Regions from separate parts of the Homo sapiens genome. Here regions 2, 3 and 4 are each linked to region 1. The links come from fine-mapping of genetic effects on gene expression. A gene starts in region 1. Each other region holds a variant in brackets. All regions are shown on one strand. Distances are between the middles of the regions. Region 1 holds the start of TTYH2 (tweety family member 2). Region 2 overlaps TTYH2 (tweety family member 2). Region 3 holds the start of DNAI2 (dynein axonemal intermediate chain 2). Region 4 overlaps TTYH2 (tweety family member 2).

The links. PIP is the estimated chance that this variant, and not a neighbour inherited with it, causes the effect. A credible set is the group of variants that fine-mapping cannot tell apart.
Region 2: its variant is the best candidate, but not a certain one, in a credible set for the expression of TTYH2 in whole blood (INTERVAL, PIP 0.89).
Region 3: its variant is the best candidate, but not a certain one, in a credible set for the expression of TTYH2 in lung (TOPMed, PIP 0.71).
Region 4: its variant is the best candidate, but not a certain one, in a credible set for the expression of TTYH2 in unexposed skin (GTEx, PIP 0.55).

What each region holds. Positions count from the first base shown.
Region 1 is chr17:74,210,677-74,216,583 of GRCh38, reverse strand. It overlaps TTYH2 (tweety family member 2), which reads right to left and starts at 3,013. Exons shown (of 14, transcript NM_032646.6): 1 at 2,868-3,013. The coding sequence starts at 2,996. It overlaps MGC16275 (a long non-coding RNA gene), which reads left to right and starts at 3,263. Exons shown (of 2, transcript NR_026914.1): 1 at 3,263-4,060; 2 at 4,902-5,907. RefSeq lists an enhancer at 669-718 and a silencer at 2,977-3,136.
Region 2 is chr17:74,249,399-74,255,305 of GRCh38, reverse strand. It overlaps TTYH2 (tweety family member 2), which reads right to left. Exons shown (of 14, transcript NM_032646.6): 8 at 5,907; 9 at 5,278-5,370; 10 at 4,949-5,041; 11 at 2,930-3,072; 12 at 2,040-2,225; 13 at 1,473-1,551. Among named protein-coding and RNA genes, the nearest start is that of DNAI2, 22 kb to the left of the region's middle. The variant C/T (reference allele first, on the strand shown) is at 2,812.
Region 3 is chr17:74,271,731-74,277,637 of GRCh38, reverse strand. It overlaps DNAI2 (dynein axonemal intermediate chain 2), which reads right to left and starts at 3,404. Exons shown (of 14, transcript NM_023036.6): 1 at 3,293-3,404. The variant A/G (reference allele first, on the strand shown) is at 2,649.
Region 4 is chr17:74,234,358-74,240,264 of GRCh38, reverse strand. TTYH2 (tweety family member 2) reads right to left here. Exons shown (of 14, transcript NM_032646.6): 4 at 2,751-2,971. Among named protein-coding and RNA genes, the nearest start is that of TTYH2, 24 kb to the right of the region's middle. The variant C/T (reference allele first, on the strand shown) is at 2,845.

The sequences.
Region 1 (5,907 bases):
CTATCAGGAGGACTGGGGGCTTTCACGGCTCCCAAACACCCCAGAAAGTGAGTGAGAGCCCCTACTTCCTCAGGAAGGTTCTGGAACACTGAACTTGCTCAGGAAATCCCAGCTCACCAGGTGACCTGCTCTTCACCATCTCTGCACTTCCAAGAACCCCCTTGCCTTTGAGATCCCCCGCACCACCCACATCCTAAGGCCAGCACCTGCCTGTTTCCATCCTTGCTTAGTCTCTGATGCACACGCACCCACCCCCCACACCCCACACAGCCAGCACTGTGCATTTGAACATGTGGGGCATGAGCTGAAGCCCTTTCTGCAGGCGTTTTGTTCAGTCTCCCCCAATCAGAGTCTGTGGAAGAGATCTCCTTCCTCTCCATTCCCCAGCAGGGTACTGTCCTGAGACACACTCCTGAACCTCTCAGCCACTCCATTGAATGATCTGTGTCACTGGCTCCTGTTATGTGCTATGGGACTCTCTGTACTAGGCATGATATGTGGAATATCTCATCTAATTCTTGCAGATGAAGGGAACAAGGCTCAGAGAGGTTAAGACACCTACCCGTGGTCACACATGGAAAGAACTGGGAATCCACCCCAGCCAACTGGAGGGCAGAGCCCCACCTCAAACTGCTTGGTGTCTGCCATAGCACTGCGCCCAGAGCCCAGCCGCAGAAAATCCCCAGCAATTTCTCCTGAAGACCTGCTGCCTTGGTTACCACGGTCACCCCACGCCTGGCATAGCACTTGCTCCAGTCAAGCTTGCTGAAGACTGGGATGACCGACGGTCCACCTGACTCTGTTAGTGACTGGTGCTCAGGAGGAAAGAAGACATCCAGGAGAGACCTGTGGTCACAACAGGGGAACTTACCAAAAACAGGAGCCACCTTAAATAACACCCAGAGCCAGACTTCCGGTCCTGGCCCACCACGCTCATCTCCTACTCAGCGATCTGAGTGGTGGTGAGGGGGTGAGCGGGACCAGGAGCCAGTGGGCAGGGCTGGTGTCAGCTGCCCAGGAGCAGTGGCCGATGGGAAGGGACACCCTCTGGAACCATTTGATGCCCAGCACAAAGTGAGCCGGGGCCAGAATCCTGGGAGGAGGGGCAGAGGCTGGAGGTAGGTTCATCTGGCTCAACTGCCACCTGCCCATGGGACTGAGGGGGCTGTGGGCAGGCCCAGGATCCACCAGCCACAGCTGTTGGGCTGATAGGAACTGTCTCTGGGGCCATCAGGGTGAGGGAGTCCCCTTACCATCCCTACCCCCACCTAGGGGTCTTCTTGACCCAATGAAAAGTTTAGATTTCCTCCAGTGGAGAGGAGAAAACTATGGCTGGAGACCCCGGGTGTGGGATGTGGGGCACAGGGTTTGGGATGGGGACACACACACACACACACACACACACACACACACGGCTGTTTCTGAAATCATATCCGCCTCTTTTCATGCATTCTCTGGGAGAGGAAGATTCCCTGGAGCTATCCCCAGGCAGCCACATTCTCAGGGAACACAGACTCCCACAGGCTGGGCTCTGGGGGAGGGGGGTGGGTCCACCGACTGCCGTCTTGCTCCTGAGTGCCCACTGAACCCCAGGAAGGGGTCCTGATGCTCCCCTCCCTCTGGTAGGGCAGGCACCATCTGCCTGGGCCTGATGGCAGCCGGGTCGTCAGGGGTTATTATTAGACTCCCTGTCACTGGCGCTTGGGCACCTCACACTGGATCAGGATTCCCTCCAAGAGGCCCTGCTTTGCCCTGATCTGTCCCATATCTGGAGAACTTGACACAGGGAGAGGCCGCCGGGGGCCAAAGTCCTGAGATGGGCGCCTGGCTCTGAATAAATGGACCTCATCCTGGTCCACTGGCCCCAGAATCTTTGACCCAACACAAGGAACTGATACAGGTGGGCTCCCGGGGCCAGAGCAGGCGTGACCAGACCTGAGACGGGCTGGGAGATTCTGCAGCTTTGTTTGTCTGGGCAGGGAGGTCTGGGGAGCCCTGGCCCTGTTTGTGGGGTGCAGAATCCTGCCAAGGGTCAGCAGAGTAGGGAAAGGGCGGGGAAGCCGGGAGTGACTGCCCTAGGCCAGAAATTCAGGGCTTAAAGGTGTGAGGTAGAGAGAGGGGCGTGGGGGAACAGGAATGGGCCAGTCTAGGACCAGGGGACACAGAGAAGCTGACTGTCAATGCAAGGGGGTCCTCAGGACAACAGTGTGAGATGGGCTGACGGAGGCCACCTTCCTTCCCTGGAACAAGCGCAAGCAGCTGTGGGTTCTCTGCGCTAGAGGGGAAGTGACCCACACCGCTTCCCCAAGCCCTGCAGCCTTCCAGCTGAGACTCCCACCCTGCAGGCCGGGGCTGGGGAGGAGGGGTGCTGCGAAGACCGACTCGGGAGACTCTACTCAGTTTCTGCCAAACTTTCCTAGGCCACTCAGCCCCGGAAAGAGAGCGCCCCATCTTGGAATCTCAGACGGTCGAAAACTTCGGGGCACCCCTCAGCATCCCCGCACCTCGCGCGCCAGGATTACCCCGAGACGAATGCCCCTGTCCTTACCCCTCCCCCGCGCCGCCCTGCCCGCTCAGCGTTCAGCCCCTCACCCCGCAGGCGGTCTTGCGCCCTTCCTCCCCTTCCCCACGCTCGCTTCACTCTGATCTCTTCAGTTTTCCCGGCCCCCAGGTTCCCAGACAGGAGGGGACGCGGGCCACGGGCCTGGGAGGGTGGGGGAAAAGGGGAGAGGGGAGACGGGAAAGGGCTGCGCGGGGAGAGAAGGGGTCTGAGAGGCACGTGGGAAAGTGCAGGCTCTCGAGGGGAGAGGGGGTAGTGCGGGGACTTGGGGCGCGCGTGGCTGCGGTCTGGGGCGGCGTAAACTTACCTCCTGGTAACTCTCGTCGCCGGGGCTGAAGGTGCTGTTCACGGGCTGCAGGCGCAGGCCGACGTGCGGGACGCTGTGCAGCCACACGACCCACCAGGGAGCGATGTAGTCCACGCGCGCCGCCTGCATGGCTCGGCCCGAGTGCTACCCACAAGCTGAACGACAGCTGCGCTCACCTCCCGGCCGGGGCCCCGTGCCCGCCCCGCCCCCGGCCCCGCCTCTCCCTGGGCCCGCGCCCGCCCCGCCCCGCCGCGATCCCAGTCCCAGTTCTGGGCGCGCAGCCCGCTGCAGTCAACAGCCCCTTTCTGGGCGGGGATCTGTCCTGGCCGGATGGGAGGAGGGAAGTGAAAAAAGCTCCCAGAAGTCTCTAAATCAGTTTCAGTCTCGAGGTCCCCGGGCTGCTTCTTATTTATGATCAGATCAAGGGTATAAGGTGTCAGTGGGGGCAGCCAGCAGTCATAGGCCAGAGAGGGGCGACTGCCCGTCCCAAGGGCTTGTCACAGGGTAAGTAACCGACAGACTGGGAAAGGAAGGAGGCAATCTTCAGCCACTCGGTCACTCATTCTAAATTCACTCTCATTTTTTGGGCATCTATTGTGCAAGCCCTGTGGACTTAAAAAGAGAAATAAGACGCCGTCCCTGCCCTCGGGAGCTCCCGGCGCATCTGCCCCAACAACTCGCTGAAGCCGCCTGCAGGACGCCTGAGTGAGGACAAGGTGTCTCACTCAGAAAATTTGCTTGATTCTTCCTGGCAAGTGGGACAGGGTGAGCTTCCCGGAGGAGGGGACCTTCGAGCTGTGTAGCGGGGAAGGTAGGAGAGCGATGAGAGCGCCCGGAAGGGACAAGCATTCGGGGAGACTGAAGCGCATTCAACAACATATTTATTGAGCACCTACTACGTCCAGGCACTGTTACATCGGTGATGTAACAAAAGCCGACAAAAACCCTCACCCCGAGCGCAGGCACCGCAGAGGGCGATGACGACCCGAGAAGATGCCGAACGCAGGCCAGGAGGGGGCTCTGGGGAAAAGCAAAGGCAGGGGAGGTTGCCCATCGGGGAGCCTCGCGTCCCTGGGCCCTCCGTACTCTGCACATATGCAGAGGCCCCCACCCGTCCTGTAACCGCAAACTGCTTGGCGTGACTTGGCCAGCGGAGGGAGGAGCCCAGGCTGCAGGACAAGCAGGAGTCAGGGGTAGGTGCGGTGGAGTGATGGGGTCGCGGCAGATTGGGCGTGGAAACCGCGCTGGGCAGCCAGCCTGAGGGGTGCGTATCCACCGCGGCAGGGACGCGGGTGAGAAAGGAGCCCCGGGAGGACGGGGCGGGGCTCCTAGGGTTCTGGCTGAAGGGACCGGGTGGATGCGGACCGACTGAAAACGCTCGCAAACACATATGGCTGCTGGGGAGTGGGGCCCCAGTCACCCGGTGCTCAAAGGCCCTGTGTCCATTAGAGGAAGTCCTGGCCTCGGGGCCTCTCCTCGTGGCCGTGATCCCACGGTTCTGGGGCCCTGCAGGAGCCCAAAGCTGAGGGGCCCGGAAGGCTGGAAACAGCCATTCTTCTCTCATTGGGGTGTCTTTCAACAAATTTTCTTGAGCACGTTCTCTGTTCTAGAGGATACAGTAATGGATAAAACACACGTTCCCGCCTGCATGGCGTCTACAGCCTAGTAGGCGAGGTGAGGTGGACTTGTATCCTGCAAACAGCGATTGCAGGCCTTGTGAAATGTCAGAGTCCCTGCTGTAGGGAGAGGGGATGGAAGGTGGGCGTCAGGGTTGTTTCCCAAAGGACAGTGACATGAGCTGAAGGATGATCGGGAGTCAAAGAGGGGGGTGCTGGGGGAGGCCTCTGTGCAGAAGGAACAGGACCCTGTGAGATCAGGGACTAAGGCCAGTGGAAGGGGAAGCAAGCAAGTTCCAGAACAGGACAGGGAGCCGGAGAACTGCAGGAGCCAGGCGATCAGCTTGGAGACTGCGGCAGGGGAGGGAACTTCTTTGGGTGAAAACCTCCTTTTAAAAGGTCTTGGTCTCTGACTCAGTCCCTGCAGTTGCTGGGGAAAGTGGACTCTTCTGGTAGCTGCTTTTACAGCCCCTGCCCTCAGAGGCCCCCCAGGTGGGAAGGGCCTGCCTCCTAGGCAGTGGGTGGTCACCGAGGACTGACTTTGAACCCGGGGCAAGGGAGCCCCAGAAGGCTGGAGGCCTGCACACGGCACTGGAAGAAACAAACTGCAAAGGCTGTCCCTCAGGGCTATCTCCACAGCCACCGGAATGCGGCCTGGAATATCCAAACCTGTCAGCCCACCTGCACCCAGCCAGACAGCGACCATTCTAGCTGCTTCCCCGGAGGCCTGCTGACCCAGAGAGGTGTCAAAAAGCTGAAGCACAACAGACAGACCTCCCACAGACTCAGCAGGGAGTTGGAGGACAGTCGGCACACCAGCAGCTGTAGCCCATCACCTCCCCCCTCCCCATTCACCTGGTATGCAGCACTTAAGGGCTTGCTGAAGCCCCAGCAAAGCAGAGGCCCACCTGAGAGCTTGGAAACACACCTATGCCCCAGACCACCGCAATCGCAATCTCCAGTCAGCCCTGGCCACCACAGTGAACTGCCTAAGTGCCCCAGATGACTGAGTCACAAGCCAGGGCTGGGAAGCACTGCATGAAAGGCGGCCTTCTCTAGACAAGGCTGGACACACCCCTGCAAGGCCTGTCTCCTAGGAGCTGGGATGAAACTCTGGACGATGTGCTGGGAACAAAGAAAACCCACATGGTAAAGGCTCGCTTTTCCTTGGGAATCTGCAATGCTTACAGAACGGGAAAGGCTGAAAGCCGCCCACAGTGCCGCACCTGGGCCTGAGGGCTGGTGTACCCACCCTCTCCCGGAGGAAACAAGACCCGTGACCAGACTCAAAACCACCTCACACCCTCACAATCCTTACAGAATATTCAAAGACTGGCACTTCAACCTTACAACCTGAGCACGTCTAAATGCCTAACACAATACCAAGCACACTGTATGCCACGCTTTTAAAAGGTAGAGATCTT
Region 2 (5,907 bases), 39 kb before region 1:
ACCACCGAGGAGGAATGTGCTAGTATTCCCATACTCATTCTATAGATGGGGAAACTGAGGCACAGAGCAGCAAAGTGCTTGTCCAAAGTCACAGAGGCCATAAGCCATGAGCTGGGATTTGAACCCAGGCCTTTGGCACTGGAGTCCGTGTCCCTGAACCTTGGCGGTCACTTCACTGTCTGTTTACAGCTTTCTTTGTCTCAGCCAGTATTTCTGTGTCCTTTGGATACTTCTCTGGGATGAGACAGCATAGTCTTTCCTTCTCAACCTGCCCACCCTGAGCTACTCCCCTGAGGCTGTATCTCAGGTACTCTGGCTGGAGGTGGTGGGGTGGACAAGAGGCACTGGCCCTACTTGGGCACAGTCCTAGGGACATGGGGAGCTGAGACGGATTGAGGAAGGCTGTGTTTGGGTTCAGCCCTCCCAGACCCGCCACCACAGCCAACCCACCGTCCAGCCCAAAAGAGACCAAGGATTAAGGTAAACAGAAATCTAAAAAGAAAAAAAATTCCTTAATTTTCTCTGGAGCAAAAAGGGAAAGAGACCCCCTCTCTTCTTGCAGTATTTCCTTTAGAAAACTTATCATTGTAAATAATTTCTGTCTTTTGAGATGTCTGCAAACCTTCTTAAAGGCTGAATATGGCCCTTGCCAGTGTTACAATCCAGGTATGGTTTTTTCAGGTCTGGGAGCCATCTCTTGGAAGTACAAACATCAGGAAGACAGCACCTCATCTCCTTCTCAGTGACAGTTCACTTAGGGGCCTGGCTCCAAGTTGTAGCTATCTGATTGTCACGGAAATAGGAGTTTTATTTTTCCTCTGGATAAAGGCAATTAGCTGGCCGGGCGCGGTGGCTCATGCCTGTAATCCCAGCACTTTGGGAGGCCGAGGCGGGTGGATCACCTGAGGTCAGAAGTTTGAGACCAGCCTGGCCATCATGGAGAAACCCCATCTCTACTAAAAATACAAAAATTAGCCTGGCGTTGTGGCACGCACCTGTAGTCCCACCTACTTGGGAGGCTGAGGCAGGATAATTGCTTGAAACCTGGGTTGCAGTAAGCCGATATTGCGCCACTGCACCCCAGCCTGGGCAATAGAGTGAGATTCTGCCTCAAAAAATAAATAAATAAATAAATAAAGGCAATTACTTAACCAGGATGGCCACCCCAATTAGCAAGTGGATTAAGGTGGACTACTGTGACAAACAGTGCCGTCAAGTCCTCTTGCTGGATGACAGGTATGCAGTGGGCTGTGTCTTGTTCCTGCCTGGCTAGGGGAAGGAGTGAGATTTCTTGCATCTTTGCAATCTCCTTAGCGGACTGCCTGGGATACCCACGACGGTCTGGTTTAGTGCATATTCAATAACAGAACAGTTTCATTCTTTTCTGCCTTTGTGGACAGGATTCACTGGGTTGGCAGGAGGTTTTGTCTTTATGTATTACCCCAACAAGGAAGGGCCAGAGCCCCAATTACCGTAGGCGGAGGGGAGGCTCTCCCGATTAGTGGCACGTTCTCGTAGCGTGGGTTCCTACCAAAGAGCATGGCTTGGTTCCTGCGGGGATGAGAGGAGAGCTCAGGAGGGGATGGTGTGGGAGTGGGGGTGTGTGTAGATTTCTACAGGAGGGTCCCATGGGTGAGCACATGGGAGGTGGGGGATGGAACCAAACCACAGATAGAGTGGAGGGGGTGCAGTGGGCAGATATGGAGAAGAGCACCTTGGGAAGCCTGGGGACAAGTGGCTGATGGGCAACGGAGGCTGGGAGCAGCATGGCCTGGAGAAATGCAGCTTTTTGGGCCTGAGACCTGTCCCACCAGCTTGTGGCAGAGGCTGCTGACATCAGTGGTTTCTTCCCCCAGCACATGTGGGTGTGGAGGGGTGACTAGATGCTCCCCGGGGGCCTTCCCTCCAGGCACCCTGTGGCTGTAGTGGGGACCACGGGTGGCCTTGGATGCCTTCCTCCCCACACCCGGCACTGTGGACCCCACCCAACATGCTGTCCGGGCAGTGCTACCCAGCCTGGGTGTGTGTGCAGGCCGTACATGTACTCGGAGACAGGGGCGTTGGAGATGGTCTGGGCCGGGGGCTGCAGGCTGGTCTGACTTCCCAGGCCACTGCTGTAGCTGCAGAAGCTGTGAAGCTGTCCCCTCGGGGGACTGTGAGCCGCCATGCGCCAGGCTTGGGGGTTAAAGGGGTCATCATCATCAATGTCATCGTAGTCTCTGTTTCTAGAACAATGGGTAGAAGATGGCCGGCTGTGAAGGGTGAAGGAGGCTCCGAGGCAGCCAGGTCCTGTCCTACTTCCCTGCCTTTCCTCCCAGGACTCTCTGGCCACGCGTGTCTCCTTGAGACTCCTCTAAAACGCGGTCCCCAGCCTGCCTCCTGCAGATCATTCTGGCCCATTCCCAGCTTCACGACCAGCTCTTCCAGGCTCCCCACCACGCTGACCATGCGCATGTGGGTCCCCACTACCCTGCGTCCTCTTGCCTAATCCGCTCACCAGGTGCCTGTACACCATGTGTCCCTGCCCATCTCCTCAAGGGGACTGCAGGCTCCCTGAAAACAGTGACCCCATGTATCCTTCTTGCTATTCCTGGGGCACCCCTCCCAGCACCAAGAACTCTCCTCATTCCAGATCGCAAAGTCCTGGTGAGAAGAGAGGAGAAGGGAGGCCAGACTGTGGCCTGAGGGCTGTCACCACCCTGGGCCCCAGCTCTTGCTCTGGGCCCCACCGAACTCCTTTGGAGGGTCTGTGTGGACTCTTGGGGAAGCTTCTGTAGAAGTCAGCCAGCCTGTTGGGCTGAATGCCCGGGC[C/T]CTCTGCTGCCCTCCTCAGTCCTGGGTTATCAGCTAAATCGTAGAGCAGAGGCCCCTGTCTGCTGCTCTCCCAGAACTCCAGGCTGTGGGAGGCTCCCCTCCTTACTAGGCAGCCCACCTGGTGGTGAAGTGCTTCCAGGCCCTTGGCCCTGCACAGATCATGGTGGAGAAGGCGAGGGCGGCCAGGAAGGAGAAGAGGCCAAGGTACAGCAAGCCCTGGAGGCCGTCGTAGCAGATGCCAGCAAGAGCGTCCAGATAATCCTGGAGGAAGAGGAGGGACATGCAGCTAGTGAAGGAGCGGGGGCAAAGCCTGCGGGCCGAGCTCTCCTCTGGAAGTCCCTCTCCCCCGAGCCTGGACCTGGGGTCTCCTGGCTGCTCCCCATCCCGAGCGCCTTGCAGCACCATTAAAGGTCCACACTCTGGAGCCTAACACAATGGGGCTTCTTGGGTTCACGCTGGAAACATTTGCTGAGCACTTACTGTGAGCTGGGCACTAAGAAGCTGGCTCTGAACAGGGCGGAGGAGGTTGCAGGGTGGGGAACCAGAGACGGGGGCACTGAAGCTGAGGCCAGGATGGCAAGAAGCAGCACACCTTGAGAAGAGGGGGCAAAGGGGACAGGCTTGGCCTGTTCAGGAAAGAGAGAGAACATAGGCCAGCAGGGGCTGGGTCGTGCTGGGCCTTGCAATGCGGGAGAGGAGTACGGACTTTTAAAAGGAGTCAGAAAGACATTGGAGGGTGTGGGAGTGGAAGGGATGTGATCCAACCTAGTCTGCAAAAGGACTGCTCTGGTTGCATGTGTGAAAGCTCATGGGTGGTGAGGGGGCAAGAGAAAGTGGGAAGAGGCCACTGTCTGCTGGAGGGGCAGGACCGGATCGTGGTGGAAGCCATGGAGAGAAAGAGAAATGGATGGATTCAGGGTACAGCTGAGAGGAGAGCTGCCAAGACTTGCTGGGGATTAGATGTAGAAGGGGAAGAAGAGAGGAGACAGGGGTGACTGCCATGTTCTTAGCTCTGAGGTCAGACTACCAGGATCTAAACCCAAGCCCCTGATGTGCCAACTCGGGACTCTTCAGTAAGCCACTTTATAAATACACGCACACACACCCCCCACACACATGCACCCCCCACATGCACACACACATGCACCACACACACCACATACATGTGCACACATGTGCACACAACACACATGCACACACACCACACACATCACAGACATGCACACACCACACACACGCACACACCACACACCCCACACACACATACAGGCACATACACATGCACCACACACACGCATGCACAGCACACATGCGCACAAGCATGCACATACCACACACATACATACACACATCACATATGTGCACCCACACAACCGCAGAAACACACCACACACGCACAGACATATACACCACAAGTGCACACACACGCACACACACACAGACACACGCACGTGCACACACACATAGCTGTATCTATGGATCTATCCATACACACGCACAAGCAAGTCAATTTCCTAGGAAATAACGTGTGGTTCACAGTATAACTGTGAGAACTGAATGACATACTGGATATAAAATGCACAGAACAGGGCCAAGCATGGAGCTGACAGCTGTGATGATGACAAAGACTGTCTGCACTAAATCCATCTGGGATGTGAAAGCTGTCGCCATACACTGGCTCACTGCTTTTGGGTGGGGGGCTCTCACGTGCTCCCCATGTGTTCCCTGCATCATTGTGTCTGTCTGATATTCCAAGTTCCTGGAAAGAAGACTCTGGCAATGGGATTGGGACATCCACTTGCAACCCAGGGAGACAGATGTGTTGAGGAAATGGCTAGGAGTCTGGACAATGGGGAACAGCCTCCCTTGCATTGTTCAGGGTCCCCCAGTGACCCAGAGCCAACCGCATCCAACCCTCCCATCCCGAACCCCTGGTCCCTTGTACTGAGTCTCCCTGTCTCAGCCCCTGGAGAAGCCAGGCACCCCCTCCCTTCCCATTATCTGGCTTCAGTTCCATTCCTGGGCCGGAAGGGGACCCAGGCCATCGCTCCCCTCGGCCTCTACCGGCTTTTCTCTGGAAGGTGTGGCCTGCTGGGTGCCCTCACACTCTCCACGTGACCCCAGGGTCCCCATGCACCTTGTGCAGCCCTCGGCAGTCCACCATGGCGGTCAGCTGGTGAAGGCTGGACTCTGAGGAGTTCAGCAGGAGCTGGATTGCAAGCAGGTCTTCCTGAAGCGGGAAGAGAGCGAGAGAGGCCGAGGGGCTGTGGAGGAGAGCTGGCGGAGAAAACCACCACAGCAGCTGTGCTCAGGGGCCTCTAGAGCCAAGGGAGGGAGCCGAGTCACGGGGGCGGGAGAACAGAGAGCCAGCAGCAAGCTGTGCACAGCCTGGCCCTGGGGCCGGGGCAGGGGAAAGGGCTGTCAGGGTTCATCTGGGGCTCCCCTCTTCCTGCACAGCTGCCTTACCTCTGCAGTGGAGAAGAGGGGCACGGCAAACTGCAGCAGCCCCGCGACCTGGATCTGCATGGTGGTAAGTGCGCGCTGGAAGGTGGTCAGGGTCTGAGCCAGGAAAGACACAGCCCCACAGTGAGGCTCCGTCTCCCAGGAGCCCCACAGTGAGGCTCCGTCTCCCAGGAGCCCCACAGTGGCTGAGGGGCCTATGCTCCTGCCCCTCCCACCCCCCCACCTGGCTGCAGCTGCACAGGCCCCTCCACTTGCAGGAAGTCTCCCCCTACTCCTCTGGCTTCTTGAGAGCTGCACAGTCTTCTCCCTGCTTGCAGCTCAGATGTGGTCTTTGGACCAGCAGCCCTGGCCTCACCTGGGAGCTTGTGAGTAGTACAGAATCTCGGCCCCACCCCAGAGCTCCTGGACAGCATCTGCATGGGAACTAGCTCCCGCATTGAGCTGCATATGTGTTAACCACCAATCTAGAACCCACGACCAAAAGCACGCCCCCCTCACAGAAGCAGCTAAGGAGAGGACCACAGTGAGGCAAGCAAGGCCCTGCCACCTCCGCCATCTTGGTCAGTGGTGAGGCTTAGGGTCAAGGGGGAGCGGCTGTGGGCAGGGTGAGGGCAGGCCTCGGGGGGCCATACC
Region 3 (5,907 bases), 61 kb before region 1:
CTGAGAGGCAGGGCAGGAGCTGTGTGCCCCTAGAAGCATGTGCCAGGGGGAACTTGGGCCCTGGAGCAGCTGGGGCAGCAGGTGGGGAGAAGGAGGGTAGGAAGGTTAACCCTTTGCATCCATATACATTGTGTCTTGAAGACAGTACCACCCCATCCCACTCCTAGCCCCAGAGCAACTCAACCTTAACCAGACTGTTGCAGAAAGTGGCATTTTCTTTCTTTTTTTCTTTTTTCTTTTTTTTTTTTTTTTTGAGATGGATTCTCGCTCTGTCGTCCAGGCTGGAGTGCAGTGGCAAGATCTAGGCTCATTGCAAACTCCGTCTCCCGGGTGCAAGCGATTCTCCTGCCTCAGCCTCCCGTAGCTGGGATTACAGGCACATGCCACCATTCGCGGCTAATTTTTGTATTTTTAGTAGAGACAGGGTTTCAGCATGTTGGCCAGGCTGTTCTTGAACTCCTGATCTCAAGTGATCCGCCCACCTCGGCCTCCCAAAGTGCTGGGATTACAGGCATGAGCCACCGCACCCAGCCTTGTTTTCTTCTCTTTCTTGTAGTTTGGAAATTCTCTTTCCTGGGTGGGAGCAATGGCTTAGAGGGCACAGGGTGGGATGAGAAGCCCAGATTGTAGCGGGGTGCCCCAGTGTGTTTTTACCACATGGACAAAGCTACGGCCTTGTGAAAAAGCATGCAAATCCCGTGGCATCCTCCCCTTTGCCAACACAGTGTGAAGCAACTGTGCCTCCCACATGGGGCTGCAGGACTCAGGCAATTAGGGCTGCCTGTCTCTGACTTTTAAAAGAAATTGCTGCAAGCCAGCTGGCTCCTAGGGGACACAAGGAGATTGAAGAGAATGAGGAAACTCCAGGAAGACAGAAATAGCCTCTTTAGCCCAGATCAGATTTTTAACAGCTTTGCTTTCCTTCTTGGTGTTTCCCAAGGCCAAGCCCCGAGTGAGAACAGAGGCATTGTCTTGTGTCTGGAGGCAGACAGAGGGGACATTTAAAGACTGGCCTGGTGACGGGAAGACAACCCATTCAAGGACCCAGAGCAAGCTCTTCTCACAAGCTAGCAGGGCACACAGATGAATAGCAAGGTCAGCAAAGGGCGTCTCAGGAGGTCTCCCCCAACCTCTTGTGAGACTAGTGCTAGAGGGTGGGCTTCCCCAAGCAAGGCCTGAGCAGGAGTGTCTGCATGGGGTGACAGAGCGGGGACGGGAGCAGTGTCACTGCCCTCTGGAGTTTTGGGGGGAGATCCTCCCCCCGTGGGAACCTAGAGTCCCAGAGGCGTGAAGAACACCACTGTGAGTCTCAAACACAGGAACACGCAGAATCAGGGACGCTGTGGTCCAGACATCAAAGATTCAGGCGTCTCCCGCATCCCCGGGGAGGCAGTCAGATGGGAACCTTCACTCACTATAAAAACAAAACTCGTCTTGTGCAGTGAGAATGAGCAAAGTAATTCCTGGAGAGAACCTCCGGTGGCTTAAGGGAAAGTGTGTTTTCCAAGCTGGGAGGAAGGCCAAGGGAGTGATGGGGAGGAGGAGTGTCAGCGTGGGAGACTGGGAAGGAGGCAAGCTGGAAGGTCAGCCCTCCACATTGAACTCCCTAGTGGAATAAGGAGATGAGAACATTTTCCTCTTCTTCTTGGTCCCTGGTACAGCCCCTACTGGGTTCCTGCGAGTGGTGGGCCCTGCATGGCACCTGGCAGGAGAGGACTTCCTTCCCTCTTTCTTTGTTGTTGTTGCTTTTGGGACAGTGTTGCTCTGTCACCCAGGCTGGAGTGCAGTGGTGTGATATTGGCTCACTCCAACCTCTGCCTCCCAAGTTCAAGCGATTCTTGTGCCTCAGTCTCCTGAGTAGCTGAGACTACTGGTGCATGCCACCACACTCGGCTAATTTTTTTTTTTTTTGAGACGGAGTCTCAGTCTGTCACCTAGGCTGGAGTGCAGTGGCCTGATCTCAGCTCACTGCAACCTCCACCTCCCAGGTTTAAGCAATTCTTCTGCCTCCACCTGCCGAGTAGCTGGGACTACAGGCGTGAGCCACTGCACCCGGCCAGAATTTTTGTATTTTTAGTAAAGATGGGGTTTCACCATGTTGGGCAGGCTGGTCTCAAACTCCTGACCTCAAGTGATCCATCCTCCTGGGCCTCTCAAAGCACTGGGATTACAGGTGTGAAAACCGCACCCAGCTTTCTTTCTCTTTCTTATGTCCTTGTGCACCTTCTGGAATTCCGGGGTCCTGAGGGACTCACTCTACCCTCAAAAGAGGCAGACCTCCCTAGAAAGCCCCCATTTATTTTCCCCCAGGATAGCACTAAGCATGGCTGAGCCCCCCAAGGAAAGTGAAGGTTGAGGGCAGGACGAGTTGGGAAGAGGTCCCCAGAATTGGAGACCGATGGGGGTCAGTGACTACCTGCCCTCACAACTACCTTGTGGTCTCCTTGACGGAAAGACTGTGGTCTTTTATTCACTCCCGTCCCCAGGGACTGGCACATAGAAGGGGCCCAAGACTCCTGTCACCTGCTGCGTTAGTGACTGTGATACCAGCGCCTACCAGGCTTCTCTCTACAGCTCTCTCCCCTGTTCCTCCTCTGCTGACCGTGACAAACAAGCAAAGGATTTGAAACCAAGGATTCGAGAGGAAA[A/G]CACATAGGGTCTGAAAGCTGGGAGAAGACGCACTTCTGTGGTTCAAGAGAATGTGGTAAACCTTGACCTTGAGCAGGAAGGAGGAACTGCACACGCTCCGGAGGAACTCACCAACTGTATGACCTCGATCACACGAGAACGCCAGCTCCCAGGTTGAGGAAGAAATGAAAGAAAGCACTTAAAACACCTGCCACCTAGCAGGTGTGCAATACTGTTAATTTACATCCCTCTATCCTGAGCAGAAAGCTCTCCTCTTAAAGGGCCCATCTTCCCATCACCCTAGCCGGAGGCTGTTTTTCTTCTTTTTTTTCCATCCATTCAGCTGTAAATCCTTCAGAGGTCTCCAGTCCACTCCAGGACAAGGACTGTATCAGGACCTGAGTGGGTAGGAGGGTATGAGGCAGGGTGTACAGAGGCTGCAGGGTCCTGCGACTTGGGGCGGATCCAGGGCAGCGAGGACTAAGGGGAAGAGGGCACTAGGAGCGCTAGTCCTGGCAGCCACCATCTGGCAGAGCTATCCCAGAAGGAAGCCCCCCAAGAGGAATGTTTGGCACTCTTGGTGGTTATTACCCTGTAAGTCTCTCCCTGTCACTCTCCACTCTAGTCTTTAGCCTCCGACGTCCTCCTGGCGCCCGCCCCTTACCCTGGGTCCGCTCCTTCTGCTTCTGGGTCTCTGGGGAAGCGTTCAATCCACGGTCGCGGCTCCGGTGCTCCTCAAACGGCGGCGTTTACCGGTTGCTTGGCAACCCCGGCCTGGCTCCGGACGCGCGGGGCGACGCGGAAGGACCCCGGAGCACGTGACTCCTTTCCTGCCACGTCGGAAGCGCAGGCCATCCCTCTTCTTTTTGGAGGTCTCCTGAGTTAGGAGAAGAATTAACCAATAGGTTGGTAACATACTAATAATGATCATGAATATTTGTAGGGGCGTTGCCAAGGCGCTTATCCAAGCCTACGTTTGTATGCATTTGCATCGAGCAAGGCACCCAGAAAATGCAAGGAAGAATAGTCAGTGCTTGGGAAGCCCTGATCCCTGGGTGGTGATGGCGGGCTCTGCTTACCATCTTGGCCGACTGTGTTGTCCTGCCTTCCTTCAGTTTCCGCATCCATTCAGTGGGAATTATAACTCTGCCCTCCCCTCTGCTACCATCCTTCCTCCACTTTCTGTAATAAAGACATCTTCCCGCACCACCAGAATGGAAACTCCTTGGGAGTAGAAGCTGGGGAATTTTTTTTTTTTTGAGACGGAGTCTCGCTCTGTCGCCCAGGCTAGAGTGCAGTGGCGCGATCTCGGCTCACTGCAAGCTCCGCCTCCCGAGTTCACACCATTCTCCTGCCTCAGCCTCCCGAGTAGCTGGGACTACAGGTGCCCGCCACTACGCCCGGCTAATTTTTTGTATTTTTAGTAGAGACGGGGTTTCTCCGTGTTAGCCAGGATGGTCTCGATCTCCTGACCTTGTGATCCGCCTGCCTCGGCCTCCCAAAGTGCTGGGATTACAGGCGTGAGCCACCGCGCCCGGCAAAGCTGGGGATTTTTACAGCTTAGCTGGGTGATTGGCACGAAATGTACTGTGTTCATTGAATGAATGGTTGAATGAATGAAACGAGTCATGTTTCTCAGGGAGTTAAGGCAATTGCGATCATGTAAATTAAAACAAGGGAATTTGGGGCTAGAAAAAAATGAATTTGAATCCCAGATTGGCTACCTACTAATCTCATGGCCCTGGGCAAGTTCCTTTCCTTTTCTAAGACTCAGCTATCCTCATCTGCAAAGTGGCAGGACAGTGGCGGTGCTTATTAGATAATGGGGAGGATTAAGTGAGAGACAACACAGGGGCGTGTCCAGCCCCCGTCCAGAGCTACTGGTGCCTGAATGAGTGGCAGCTCGGGGAATGAGGTTATCCCGAGTTCAGATGCTGACATCGGAAATTTGGACTGGGACAGAAGAGGAGTGCGTCATCCAAGAAGTGGGATTGGGGTTGGAACTGGGCCTTGAAAAATGGTTATGAGTTGCAGGGAAGAGGAGTGGGGAGGGCGTTCCAGATTGGGGGAGGGCATGGCGTGAGCAAGGAAGGAAGGGGCAGTCGTCATGGAAGAAAGGCATTTTGCGAGGATGGTGGGTGGATCAGTCTGGCTGGGGTTGAGAGTCCCTGCAGGGGAAAAATGAGAGAGGAATTTGCAAAGGTCAGCCAGGGCCAGTCTGTGGGGGGTCCCAAGAGAGGCAGGCTGAGGGGCCCAGACAGCTTTCCATGGGAAGCCCTCAGCGGGTTTGGGATCTGTGAAAGGACAGGAAGGAAGCAAACGTTTCTCTCCCACTTCCCAACTTCTCCATATATGTGTTGTCACCACTACCCACCTGCCTTTAGTGGGGCAGGTGCAAGGAAATTCCCAATGAGACGGCACCTTGCAGGGCCGCACTAACCAAAGACAAGCACCTAAATGACTGCTGCCACCAATCTCTCCTGATCCGTTCTGGCTCGCACCAGTTTCTCGGGACAAAGAACTCTTAGGGGTGGGTGCTGAGGGTCCTGACAGGGGCTGGGTGGAGGAGCTCCTGAAAGACGCATTGAAATGGCTTTGTGTGGTCAGAGGTGAATCAGACCCAAAGTCTCCAAGAATAGGAAACGATCCACTCCATGATGAGGTAGTGGCTGGCTGGGGTTGCAATCATAATGCAACCCTTTCCACTCCACCTCCAGCCCTGGGAAGCCGAGGGCTCTCTGAAGACACATTATTTTGTGGGTGGGAAAGTGGGTTAGAAGGGGAAATAGGAAAAGTTGAAAGGAAACTGCAGCCACCTTTACCATATTATCCAACAATTTAGTACAGGCTCCCCACCCCCACCCTCACCCAGAAGGCTGCAGGCCACCGACCACAGAGGGCAGCTCTGTTCACTGGCCAAACAGTTACCCCTTGGCCGGCTGCCTCGGCGTGAGGTCATATAATTAGAAGTATTCACAAGGACCTAGTTTGAAAACAATTGCGGTGCCTCTCAGATCTTCACCCAATCACAGCATAATTGGCAGCAGAAATTCTTTGCTGAGAGCCGCCCCTGGCCCTGGACATCCCCAGGCATTGCCACAACCCGTTCCACTGCTGTGTCCCCCTTTAGTCCCAATTTTTGTGTGCGTGGTGAACTACACATAAAATTTACCATCTTAACCATTTTTCAGTGTATAGTTCAGTGGTATTAAGTTCATTCACATTGTTTTTTGGTCTCGCTCTGTCGCCCAGGCTGGGGTACAGTGGTGTAATCATGGC
Region 4 (5,907 bases), 24 kb before region 1:
GTTTCTCCATGTTGCCCAGGCTGGTCTCGAATTACTGGCCTCAGGTGATCCACCCACCTCAGCCTCCCAAAGTGCTGGGATTACAGCATGAGCCAAACCTCTTCTGCCTCAACCCGAATAAGCAGTGGGGAGTTGGGGATGGACTCACAGGGGGTCCTGTCAATCACCCACGCTGAAATAGCTGATGTGCAGTTGACACCATCCTTCCACTATTTTAATACCATCGCCTTAACAATAAGCCGCCTTTGATATGTAAATTCTGACTTAATTCCATCAGTGTCATTAACAAAATGCCCACATGAGGCCCTTAAACATACACAGTCCTCTGCTAGGTGTGCTCAGAGAAGAGTGACGTTAAAATGGGTCCTGCCCCTGCCTGACATAAGATTTCGAAGGCTCAGGCAATGAATGGCCCATGCATCAGGAGAATCATCAGACACCCCTGTTTTGGGGCCACAGGAGGTCACAGACAGTCCTTAGAGCTGGCAGTTTCCTTCTGTCCCTTGGGAGGGAGGCTCTTTTGCCCATGAGCATCCATCTGCTGGGGAGTGGGGCCAAGGTCCCTTCAATCCAGAGCATCCAGGACATGGCGGAGATGCAGGGACTGGACGGGCTGGGGAGGCAAGGTGTGGGGAGGACCCCCAGAGCTGGGGACTTCATGAGCTCCCTCTGCTCAGGGACCTGCCACCTCCTATTTTTGGGAAGGGGAGAGGCCCCTGGACTCAGTCCAGCAGTGACCTCCTGGAGTGGGGCTTTATGACACAAGGGGACACAAATCCAGAAAACAGAAGTAAGTTGTGCAACCCTGAGCTAAAGGCTCTGACGTTCATCAATGGCTTGAAGAGGAGCCAACAAATGGAGGGTGCGGGGAGGGATCCAAAGAACTGACACTCGCTCCTCCTGACTCATGCTTCCCCTCCCCACGTGCCTCCTCCATGCTAGGCCCGGGCCCTGGGAGCACAAGCCCAGGCCATCATTCAGCCGGGAGCCCTCCAAAGGCTGGGGCTGCTGCCTCCTTCCTGTGCTTTCCACGGAGCAAACTTCGCTGGACCCTGCACCTGGAGAGGGGCAGCAGGTCCCTGCTCCGCCGATTGTGTCCAGTGCCTCTGGCTAGGCTGGGATTTGGCAAATGGGGAGGCAGGGGAGATGTAAACAAAGCCCCAGAGGTCAGATGACACGGGCATGAGTTTGTACACCTAAGTGAGGGTGGTGCCCCTCAGTCCCCATCACTCAGGTTCTACATAAGTGAGGCTGGTCTGGGCATGGTGGCTCATGTCTGTAATCCTTGGACTTTGGGAGGCTGAGGTGGGAGGATTGCTTGAGGCCAGGAGTTTGAGACCAGCCTGGGCAACAAAGCAAGACCCCTATTTCTAAAAAAAAATTTTTTTTTTTTTTTTGAGATGGAGTTTCCCTCTTGTTGCTGAGGCTGGAGTGTGATGGCATGATCTTGGCTCACTGCAACCTCCACCTCCTGGGTTCAAGCAATTCTGCTGCCTCAGCCTCCCAAGTAGCTGGGATTACAGGCATGCGCCACCACGCCCAGCTAATTTTGTATTTTTTAGTAGAGACAGGGTTTCTCCATGTTGGTCAGGCTGGTCTCGGACTCCCGACCTCAGGCGATCTGCCTGCCTTGGCCTCCCAAAGTGCTGGGATTATAGGTGTGAGCCACCAGTCCCAGCTGCAAAAAAAAATTTTTTTAAACTAGCCAGGTGTGGTTGTATGCCTGTAGTCCCAGCTACTCAGGAGGCTGAGGCGGGAGGATCACTTGAGCCCAGGAGTTCAAGGCTACAATGAGCCATGATCACACCACTGCACTCCAGCCTGGGTGACAGAGTGAGATACTGTCTTAAAAAGAAAGAAAAAAAAAGTGAGTCTGGGGACACAGCCTCATTCCTCCCTTGTGCCTCCTCCACGCTTAGGCCCAGGCCCTGGGAGCACAATGACTTGTAGGTCAGAGCCTCCCCTGATGGCAACTTCTTAGCACCCTTAGCCGGGTGCTCATCTCCTCAACCCCCCATAACCCTGTGGCTGTGTCTGTGGATACAAGAAATCCTGTCCCATGAACTCTGGCAGGCGAGGAACCTATGAAGCATGTGGCGTTTCCACCCTGCACCAGCCACGAAGAATGCTAGTCCCAGAGAAGCACCCCACCGTGTGCGGGAGGCTGAGGCCAGGTCCAGCCTTTGGCGCGGGGAGTGTGAGCACATCCCTGTCCTCTGTAGCCTCTGCTGCCTATCTATTAAGGAGGCTATCCTGCATGCTCACCACGTGGCCCCTGTAAGCCCCCATGTTCTCCTGATTTTGGCCAATGGCTTATCAAGACTTTCTGGTGGGCTGGGCATGGTGGCTCACGCCTGTAATCCCAGCACTTTGGGAGGCTGAGGCCAGTGGATCACTTGAGGCCAGGAGCTCGAGAGACTAGCCTGGCCAACATGGTGAAACTCTGTCTCTACTAAAAATACAAAAATTAGTCTGGCGTGGCGGCACACACCTGTAGTCCCAGCTACTTGGGAGGGAGGCTGAGGCAAGAGAATCTCTTGAACCCCGGAGGTAGAGATTGTAGTGAGCTGAGATCGTGCCACTTCACTCCAGCCTGGGCAACAGAGCAAGACTCTGTCTTAAAAAAACAAAACAAAAAAAAAATACTTTCCAGTGGCCCTTCTCCACCTGGAGCTCAACATGCAGGTTTGGATAAACAAAGCTGATGTAGCCGCTGCTGCCCCTCCCTCTGCCTCCCACCGGTCCTTCACCTGTAGTACTCCACGTAGCCAGTCTGGTCGGATAGCTTGGTCAGCTCCATGGTGACCTCCCTCCACACGGGCAGTCCTGAGAGCTGAACAACAA[C/T]GCTGCCCGCCATCTGCTGTATGAACTTCAGGGTCTGCAGGTAATCGCCCCGGGCAGCAAAGATCTCACTGAGCCGGGCCAGGTGCTGCTCTAGGTCCACCTTCATCTTCTGGGTAGTTCCGGAAACCTAGGGAGGAGCAGGGGGCAAAAGCCATGGAGGTAGAGCTTCTGATTCTCATCCCGGAAGAGGTCTTTGCAGGCAGCAGAAGGTGGCCTGGCCAGGTGCGATAATTACGCTCATGCCTGTCATCCCAGCACTTCGGGAGGCTGAGGCAGGCGGATTGCTTGAACCCAGGAGTTTGAGACCAGCCTGGGCAACACAGTGAGACCCTGTCTCTACAAAAAAATATATAAAAATTAGCCAGGTGTGGTGGCATGTACCTATAGTCCTAGCTACTTGGGAGGTTGAGGCAGGACAATCACTTGGACCCGGGAGGCGGAGTCTGCAATGAGTCAAGATCGCACCATTGCACTCCAGCCTGGGCGACAAGAGTGATACTCTGTGTCGAAAAAAAAAAAAAAAAAGCTGGCCTGGCCTGCTTAGGCATGAATGAACACACCATGCTGCCCCAGGCCTGAAGATCTCGAGCCTGTGCCCCTGGAGGAAGGACTGAAGACAGAGGCCGCCACTACCCACCCAGTCCTCATGTCCCTCAAACCAGGGGGCAGTCCCTGACCTGGCCTTAAACAGGATCTGGGCTCCGAGAGAGAGAATGCTGGCGCCAAAGGAGCACACCATTATGTGTTGCAGGCTGAGGCCAGGTCTAGCCTCTGGCGCTGGGAGTGTGGGCACATCCCTGCCCTCTGGAGCCTCTGTTGCTCTCTACTAAGGAGGCTATCCTGTGTGCCCACCACGTGGCCCCTGCTGTAAAGGGCTGGAATAAACGTATGCATTCATTACTATACCTTACTATATACAGAGACACCCAGATGGAGAAACCAACAAAATAATCCATTATTCTTTGAAGATTCTCTTAAAACTTTCAGCACTTTGGCTTACAAATTCTCTTTTAGAGAAACAGACTCTATGTTGCTACCTTGACCTTGTATCCCCACAATAGGATTTCTAATTGTTCTATAAGAGAAAAGCTTTGTTGTGGCACTAGCCGCAGCACACCGGGTCCTGAACGCTGAGTGAAGGCAGGACAATGGGACTTTGCAAAAACAAAAACAGCTGCGATCCTGTCTCTGAGGAGCCTGGACATGAGGCAGGAGGAGGAAACCGGCGCCTTCTCCTTGTATTCACATCCTCCCCTGGATGTGTGTCCTGCTGGGTGGGCAGACAGGCTCCTGTCCCTTGGCTGAGCCCTAAGGGCCTGGGGTTGAGTGGACCCTGAAGGAAACATCTGCCAATGCAAGACAGAAATAGAAAGTTGACGGCTGGCCATCCAGTTAAAAACATTATTTATTTATTTATATTTAAAGGTACTGCTCCTTGCAGAGCAGGGCTACCCTCTAGGCAGTGTGCCAGAGTAGCCCGTTCATCCATTTCTTTCTTTCTCTTTTTTGTTTTTTTTTTTTTTTTGAGATGGAGTCTCGCTCTGTGTCACCCAGGCTGGAGTGCAGTGGTGCAATCTTGGCTCACTGCAACCTCCGCCTCCCGGGTTCAAGTGATTCTCCTGCCTCAGCCTCCCTCCCAAGTAGCTAGGACTACAGGTGTGCACCACCATGCCCGGCTAATTTTTGTATTTTTAGTGGAGACAGTTTCACCATGTTGGCCAGGCTGGTCTCTCGAGCTCCTGGCCTCAAGTGATCCACCCACCTCGGCCTCCCAAAATGCTGGGATTGCAAGCATGAGCCACCACGCCCGGCCATGTGCATCCATTTCTAATGGTCCAAGTGGTCAACCCTAGCTGGCTTTTGAAGAGCACAGGCAGGGCTCGTACTGGTTAGCGGGACTTTCCCACAGCCCAGACCCAGGGTGCCTGCAGAACCCCGGGGTGCAGCTTGGCAGCCCCAAGCACGCCCTTGCTGGCAGCGAGCGGAGAAAGGGCTTTGTTGTTCTGAAACTGTCACACTAAACCAAGAAGCACAACGGGCCGGGAGTGGGGCAGTGTGCACTAATCCACACTCGGCAGCCTTCAGCTCCCACGGGTCTGGGAGATAAAAACGACACAGAAGAAGAGGCAGAAACTTCCCACAGTGAGATCAGCAAGGCCGATTAGATTCCACTCTCGGAGGCCAACGGTGTTCTCTGTGTTATGGGGACTTCACATCAGCTGTGTGGCCTTTTACATCTGCGCTACGCTGGGAGTTCCTAGTTCCAGAAAAGAGAATGGCTCTCTTTGTTTCATTTTGTTTTATTTTTTCAGTGTCAGCGGCTTGTTCCGTTTTCTGGCTTATGCTTGGTTCTTACGAGTTGGTTAAGGACTAAGAGATACCAGAGTACGGAGACACTCTACCATGTGCAGATTCGACAGCCCGAAGCACAGGGGAAAAGACCCCAAACCATGTAAAAGTACATTCAGTAACTAAATGTCATGCTAGTACACTTGGCTGTTCAATTTAATAAGATAAATGTACAACCACTTTGGAAACATTTATACAAATGGCACTATCATCAAAGAATAGTGCCATTCTGAACAAACCCAGTAATAGGTGACATTTCTATATTTCTATATTTCTATAAATCAAACAAACTTCAGAGTAAAGGGCTGTTAAAAAATTATCTGTAAACTTTTTCTGTGAGGCCACTTGTTTTCTCCCTCACAGTTCTACTCTCTCACAGTTAACTTCTCTATTTCTTAAACTCCTCCTTAGGGGGAAAAAAAAAGAAGGCAGTATTTGTATTTGTCATGCCTTCTCTTTCTTCCTGATATTTTCCCACAGGAAACAAAACTAAAAAATTGTTTTTTTGAGATGGGGTCTCGCTATGCTGCCCAGGCTGTTCTTGAACTCCTAGGCTCAAAAGATCCTAAAATTTTAAAAAATAAGAATGACAGCAGTGACCTACTTACAACTCCCCACTTCTCTATACCATCCCCAATTCCTTAAAGTTTCAGGACATAATACTCCCCGCAGGGACAGGTGGGATGACCCAGAGATGGAATCAGGCTCTCTCTC